2 linked regions of the Homo sapiens genome follow. The protein of the gene in region 2 purifies or fractionates together with the protein of the main gene of each other region. This does not show direct contact. Each region holds a gene or a part of one and is shown on either strand. Other genes may lie near its edges. The genes, in order: MPHOSPH10 and UTP18.

Region 1 (3,822 bases), on a different chromosome or scaffold from region 2:
TAAAAATTTAATTACCTTGGTATTTACTTCTGTCAAAAACTAAGCTATTCCTAAGATGGCTACAGTTGTTTTTAAAAGGAAAATAGCAAGTGATAACAAGTGTTGGCAAGGATGGAGAAACTGGAACCCTTGTGCATTGTTGATAGGTAGGAATGTAAAATGATGCGGCCACAGTGGCAACAAGCTTGGCAGGTCTTCAAAAAGCTACACAGAGAATTACCATCTGACCCAGCAATGCCACTCCTAGGTGTACAACCAGGAGGATTAAAAATAGATACTCAAACAAATACATGTACATGGCACTATTAACAGTCAAAAGGTGGAAACAGCCTGAATGTCCACCAGTGGATAAGCAGATAAACTGTGGTAAATACACACAACGGAATACCGTGTAACCATAAAAAAGAAATGAAGCACTGACAAATGCCAGTCTTGAAAACACAACACTAACTGAAAGAGGTCAGAAATGGAAGGCCACATATGGTATGGTTCCATTTATATCAAATACTCAAAATAGGCCAATCCACAGAGATAGAATGCAGACTGGGGTTTGTTGGGGCTGGGGCAAGTGAGGAAAGGGTAGCAACTGCTTAATGCGTATGGGGCTTTATTGTGGGCTGATAAAAATGTTTTAGAACTAGAGAGAGCTAGTAGTTACATAACACTGTCCTAAATGCTCCCAATTTGTTCACTAAGTGGTTCATTTTATGTTATATAAATCTCACATCAATTAAAAAGAAAAAAAATGGCCCAGCATGGTGGCTGGCTGGGCGCGGTGGCTCATGCTTGTAATCCCAGCACTTTGGGAGGCCGAGGCGGGAGGATCACGAGGTCAGGAGATCGAGACCATCCTGGCTAACATAATGAAACCCTGTCTCTACTAAAATACAAAAAATTAGACGGGCTTGGTGGCATGTGCCTGTTACTCAGGAGGCTGAGGCAGGGGAATTGCTTGGACCCGGGAGGCAGACGTTGCAGTGAGCTTAGATCACGCCACTGCACTCCAGCCTGGCAACCGAGCAAGACTCCGTCTCAAAAAAAAAAAAAAGAAAAAAAAGAAGTAAAGTGTTAATATAGACTTCATAAAATTATCCAAATACCCATTTGGATGGTAGGGACTTTTTTGTTCTTTTATTTACATGTAATGTGTTAAAGATTTATTCTCACAAATCACATTGAAAAAACTGACAGCAATTTTAATTCTACTGAAGAGAAAAAGAAAATTTCATGCTTCTCTCTCTGTCCCCTTTGGCCCCAAATGCTTATTCTAAATGCCTAAGAGGGCTTTTTGTTTGTTTGTTATTAAGACATGAAAAAAAGAAACCCACCAGAACTAGGAAACGATAGGCTCTTTGCCTCCTGATCCTGATGACAGAGATGCATTCAGGTCTGTTTCCAATGTCCATCATCAGCACCCACCTTCCAGCCATAGTCAGGCATCACGCTACTACTGCTTACTATTTTAACGTACCTCACACTTTAAAAAATCCTAAACATGTCCTTTCACCTCATTCTAGGTAACAATATCTGTAAAATCAAATATGTAGCTATATATTGGCTACACAGCATTTTTCTGAGCCACATTACATACACAAATGTGAGTAAAGGGTCCTACATGTGCTGTTTACCATCATTTCACTTCTAGAACTAGCCTAGCTACTAGAACTCCAAGTCCATCCTCAAAAACTTCTGAACTGGCTGTTGACTTCTAAGAGAGAAATGAAACTAACATTTAGAGCTGGCATAAGCTATTGCATTACCTATCTAATTTTTAATTCTCGTGGTCATCAAATACCTTCTGTATCTACCCAATCTCCTCAAAGATTCAAATGAAACTGTACACATCCTCCTTCAGCTACCACCTTGGATTGCAAGGCAGCCAGGAAGAATTTTAATTCAAATCTTTTCAGTTCTTCAGTTTCACAGTGGCATCAGGGCAATTTGCTGTTGCTAACTGAGGGGCATTCATTAACAAAATCTGGTGGGAATCGTAAATGGCTTTTGCAGAAGAAAAATGCCATCTGATCCCTAAGTACCCACATTCCCAATAAATCAAATGTGAAGGAATAATTCGATTATTATATCAGCATATAATATTCCTAGGAATAGGACCTTGTCCTATTATTTAACCAGCGATTTCTTCCTTTCTTTCTTTCTTTTTTTGAGATGGAGTCTCACTCTGTCGCCCAGGCTGGAGAGCAGTGGCGCGATCTGGGCTCACTGCAACCTCCACTTCCCTGGTTCAAGCAATTCCCCTGCCTCGGCCTCCCAAGTAACTAGGATTACAGGCACATGCCACCACGCCCGTCTAATTTTTTCGTATTTTTAGTAGAGATGGGGTTTCACTATGTTGGCCAGGCAGGTCTAAAACTCCTGACCTCAAGCAATCCGCCCGCCTCAGCCTCCCAAAGTGCTGGGATTACAGATGTGAGCCACCATACCCAGCCCAGAGATTTTAGTTAAGTGAAAGAAAAAACAGACCTAAAAATCAGAATGAATTCATAATCATGTAAAATATATCAGTTACTTCAAAATATCAATGAGAAATGCTTTTAAAGTTGTAGCACCACCATAATTGCTAGAAAGTTAATGAGTTGTAAAAGTATCAGGTGACCAAAGTCTAATTGCAAAGCAACCCCCCTCAACCCCTCACATCCAGCGGGAATATTAGAACCCTTCTATTCCTAGCATGCTCTGTCTCATACTTACATGAGGTAGCCAAAGAGCTCAAGATTTCTGTTTCACGATTTCAACAGTCACAAAAAGCCTAGTTCTCTACTTCTATTTCTTTAATAATAATGGCTTGGCCTTACAGGCTTCCTCACCTGGTTGAGTTTGATGTACTCCTGTTCATAAATTTCAGCAAGGCTCAATTTACTCTTCTCATGGTCTAAGGTTAAACGCTTTTTATATTCATATGCATCCTCTTTAGGTTTTTCTTTACGTACTACATCATCCCAAGCCTGAAACATAAAGTGCAGGTAGAACATAACAAAACCTACAATTTATTTCTAGGTTCACTTAAGAATCTTCCTCTGGAATATTATTATAATAAATATTATCAATATATTAATAAATTATCATTAATATATTAATAGTAAATTATATCATTGTTATAATAAATATTTATTATTACTTATTACAGAGTAAGCAAATTATAGCAAAAAGAAAATTTTCAACTCCTGAAATAACTATTCAAGTCACAAAGAATAAACATTAGGAAAGCAAAGAAACCATTACTCAAATATCTTTTTCTGTTTTAAATGAGTCTTCCTACCTGGTTACCAACTTTAATTCCACATTTCCCCATCACAGTTTGTTTAAAAGTCAAGCCTTGAGTTAGTTTATCATGTTTCATTTCAAATTTTAAGATGTTCTGCACATGATACTCACCCTTTAAACCCTTTCTATTTTAGACCCACAAGTGTAGGCAAACATTATACACATGTTATAAGGCCATCTCTTACTGTACATGCCATATATCTAAGTTTTATTCTAAGTTTACAAAATCAGATCAATTCTTCAACAAAAACCACTAGGTTTTTAACATTTGAAAAAAATACACCATTGAGAAATGGTTTTAAAATTGTAGAACTACCACAATGCTAGGGTTTGAATGTCCCCTCCAAAACTCATGTGGAAACTTAATCCCTGATGTGGCAACACTCAGATGTGGGGCCTTCTAGGACGTGACTGGATCACCAGGGTTTTGCCCTCATGAATGGCAGTTGCATTTATGGATTAATGGGTTATCATCAGTGGGGGAATGGTGGCTCTTAAGAAGAGCAAGAGACACCTGAGCCAGCATCTTAGCATGCTCAG
Region 2 (3,822 bases):
TGAAGACAAGGCAGGCAGAACAAAAGAGAAAGAGCAAAGGTTCACAGGCAAGAAAGGACCTAGCAGCATGTCCAAGAAACAGAAAAAGGCTTGTGTGACTCAAGTGGGAAATCATGGGAAACAGGTCTGATATGAGGCTAAGGATCCAGGCAAAAGCCAGACTGTAAAGGGCAGTGTAGAATACGATAAGGAATTCAGAAGTTTTCAAAAAGCAATGAAAAGTGACATGACCTGATGTTTTATTTTTAAAAGATCCCTCTGGCTGCCATACAAAGAATGATTTAAAAAGAGGTAAAGTAGAAGTAAAGAGTCCAGTCACAAAGCTACTGCAATATGCCAGATAAGAGATGACAGCAGTATGAACTAGGCTGATGCCAATGAAAATGAAGATAAACCAAACGGGATTCCTAGAATTACTGGAAAATTTATTTATTTATTTATTTATTTATTTATTTATTATTTTAGAGACAGGGTCTCGCTTTCACCCGGGCTAAAGTACAGTGGTTCCATCACAGCTCACCGTAGCTTCAAACTCCTGAGCTCAAGCAATAGGAACATAATACCTCTAGAACATTTTTTGCAAAAGGAAAAAAAAAAAACAATAACATAAGTATTTACCAGGGCAAAATGACAGCAAACATATTTAACCCCACAGATAATAGGAATCCATACATCTGCTACTGGGAAGCAAATTAAACTGCAGAGGTAAGTAGTTAGATAGGATCCCCCAACTTCACTGACTCTCACCTTCAAGATTCCTCTTGGAAGAGAAGTTGATGTGGATATGAAATTCCCAGTCCTTTGCAACAAATCATCTTCATCCTCTTCACTTTCATCTAAGTCAAACAAACCCAGAAGGCTGATCTTTAGAATCAATGAGCTGCCCCTTTTACCTACCCCAAACTTCTATGAATATATTTTCAACATCAACTCCCTTTCCAGCCTCCCTACCTCAATTGCTTTTTTTAAAGCTGCAACTGGCAAAAGCAAAACAGGAAAAAAAAAAAAAAAATTTTAAAGGAGAAGAAAAAGATGACACAAAGCTTAACATCCATAGTTAAAATCAAAGTTTAACTCTAGAATGAAAGACTAACACATACACAGATGGTTACTAAAACAAGATGAAGTGAAATAAAAGTTTAAAGCCAGCATTTCATTTAAAAAGAGCAACTCATAATTATGGCAAAATTGGCAACAGGTTGGCTACTGATCTAGTTTAACAACTCACATGAATAAAAACCAGAACTTTTAGCTGAATGATCAATGTCAGCAATCTATGTATCAGAACTTCAAAAAGAGCAAATAGGGCTGCTTTTCCCCCTGGAGATGACTGATGATTCCAGTGGAGACAGCTAAGAAGCTGAGCAAACTTAAAACACTTGCGGAGCTAAGAAGGGAAAAACTAGCTCTAAGCTTCTTGACAGGGTCTGGTAAGCCACCAGATTTTGGATTGCGGCCACAAAGGGCTACCACTAGGATTAAAGACGAAATCAAAGAATTATAAGAAAATCTTCCCAAAACTGAAATTCTGCTTCACAATTCCTCATTAAAATAAAACGTTCTGGGATTACTAGTGTCCTCTGCCAAGCTACCTACCTAGAAGTAAACATATAAACCATCATCCTAGATCTAATTAATCTACATTATTTTTCATATGCAATGTCCACCACTCAATGAAATATAACCAGGCAAATATTGACAAGATAACTTGACTAAAAACCACAAGGAAAAACAGACAATCCCCACAGGGATCTAAACAACGGAATTATCAGACACAAACCTTAAAAATACTATGTTCAGGCCAGGCGCGGTGGCTCACATCTGTAATCCCAGCACTTTGCGAGGCCGAGGTGAGTGGATCACCTGAGGTCAGGAGTCAGAGATCAACCTGGCCAACATGGAGAAACCCCGTCTCTACTAAAAATACAAAAATTAACTGGGCATGATGGCTTATGTCTGTAATCCCAGCTACTTGGGAGGCTGAAGCAAGAGAATCACTTGAACCCAGGAGGCAGAGGTTGCAGTGAGCTGAGATTGCGCCACTGCACTCCAGCCTGGGCAACAGAATAAGACTCTGTCTCAAAAAAACACAAACAACAACAACAAAAAAAACTATGTTTAATATATTTAAGAATGAAAGACAAGATTCAAAATTGAGCCAGAAATGTAGAATATTTGAAAAAGAAATTCTAGAGCTGAAAAATACGTAATTAAAAGTAAGCCCCCAATAGGCCAGGCATGGTGGCTCATATCTGTAATTCCAGTACTTTGGGAGGCCGAGGCAAGTGGATCACTTGAGGTCAGGAGTTCGAGACCAGCCTGACCAAAATGGTGAAACCCCGTGTCTACTAAAAATACAAAAATTAGCCAGGCATGGTAGTGCACACCTGTAATCCCAGCTACTTGGGTGGCTGAGGCAGGAGAATCATTTGAACTCAGGAGGCAGAGGTCGCAGTGAGTGGAGGTAGTGCCACTGCACTCCAGCCTACACGACAGAGCAAGACTAACTCAAAAAATAATAACAAATAAAATTAAATTAAGCCTCCAATAGATGTTTTTAACAGTACATCAAAATTAGCTGTAGAGAGAATTTGTGGTCTAGAAAACGAATCAGAAAAATATACCCAGACTGAAGTACAGAAAGAAAAAGGATAAAAAACACTGAATACCAATGTGGGCAACATAATAAGATCCTGTCACTACAAAAAAAAATTTTTTTTTTCATTAGCTGGGCATGGTGGCACATGCCTGTAGTCCTAGCTACTCCAGAGGCTGAGGTGGGAGGATTGCTTGAACCCAGGAGGTCGAGACTACAGTGAGCCAAGATCACGTCACTGCACTCCAGACTGGGCGATAGAGTGAGACCCTGTCTCAAAAAAAAACCAAACCAAAAAATAGGTGGAAGACATTTAATATACGTATTACTAATAATCTAGAAAGGAAGACTGGAACAGAAACAATACTTGAAGACAGGTGAGAATTTCCAAAACTTACAGAAGACATCAAGCCAGTTCAAAAGTACTATGAAGTCTAAGCAAAATACAAAGCAAGCTAAAATGATAGGGAGAGGGGATAAACAAAGAGCAACACAATACAACAATTCATAATATTAATGAATTGCTGTTGATTTTTGGAGCTGTGGTTATGTTCAAAAGGGAGAATTTTCTTATAACGAAACTCAGTAAATATTTACAGATAAAAATAACACACTGGAGATAATCATGAAGCTGAGTGCTAGTCACCATTCTGTCAACAATAAGTATACCTTCAACAAGTCACTATCTCTTTGAACCTCTCTCATGTACAAAATGAATGTGTTAGACAAGCATATCCCATACTGTAGCAGACTAATTGCTGACTTAATCCACTTCCTTTTTCTCCTGTGCACAAAGCCAAACTACACTTCCTAGGATCCTCTCAGCTAGTGTGGCCTTATGACTGAGTTCCAGCCAACAAAATGTAGGCAAAAGTATCCTGTACCATTTCCAGGAAAGGCCAATAAAAATCCCCTCTTTCTCCTCCTATAAGCCAAGTGGATGTCAACATCTTAGGCAACTCTGGAAGAACCAACCTGAAGATGACAGAACTTCTATAAACTTGGGTCCCTAAAGTAAACCATCACCTTCCTACCACCCCAATTTTATGTGCTGAAAAAACCAACTTCAATTGGATTATGCCACTGGGATCTGTGGGATTTTGTTTCAACAGCTAGCATAACCATACCCAAAATTACAGGAATCTAAAATGTTGTGGGGTTCTATAAATGCAGCATTCTGAAATGGATAATAAAATTATGTTTCATCCAGGAGGGCAAACTGGTGA

What was found.
Region 1: the proteins of UTP18 (region 2) and MPHOSPH10 fractionate together in Homo sapiens (co-fractionation; one large-scale study listed by BioGRID). This does not show direct contact.

The regions. Positions count from the first base shown.
Region 1 is NC_000002.12:71,140,373-71,144,194, reverse strand, and holds part of MPHOSPH10 (U3 small nucleolar ribonucleoprotein protein MPP10), read right to left. Parts: intron 2,964-3,822; coding exon 2,826-2,963; intron 1-2,825. UniProt on the Homo sapiens protein: Component of the 60-80S U3 small nucleolar ribonucleoprotein (U3 snoRNP). Required for the early cleavages during pre-18S ribosomal RNA processing. Part of the small subunit (SSU) processome, first precursor of the small eukaryotic ribosomal subunit.
Region 2 is NC_000017.11:51,270,376-51,274,197, reverse strand, and holds part of UTP18 (U3 small nucleolar RNA-associated protein 18 homolog), read right to left. Parts: intron 837-3,822; coding exon 748-836; intron 1-747. UniProt on the Homo sapiens protein: Part of the small subunit (SSU) processome, first precursor of the small eukaryotic ribosomal subunit.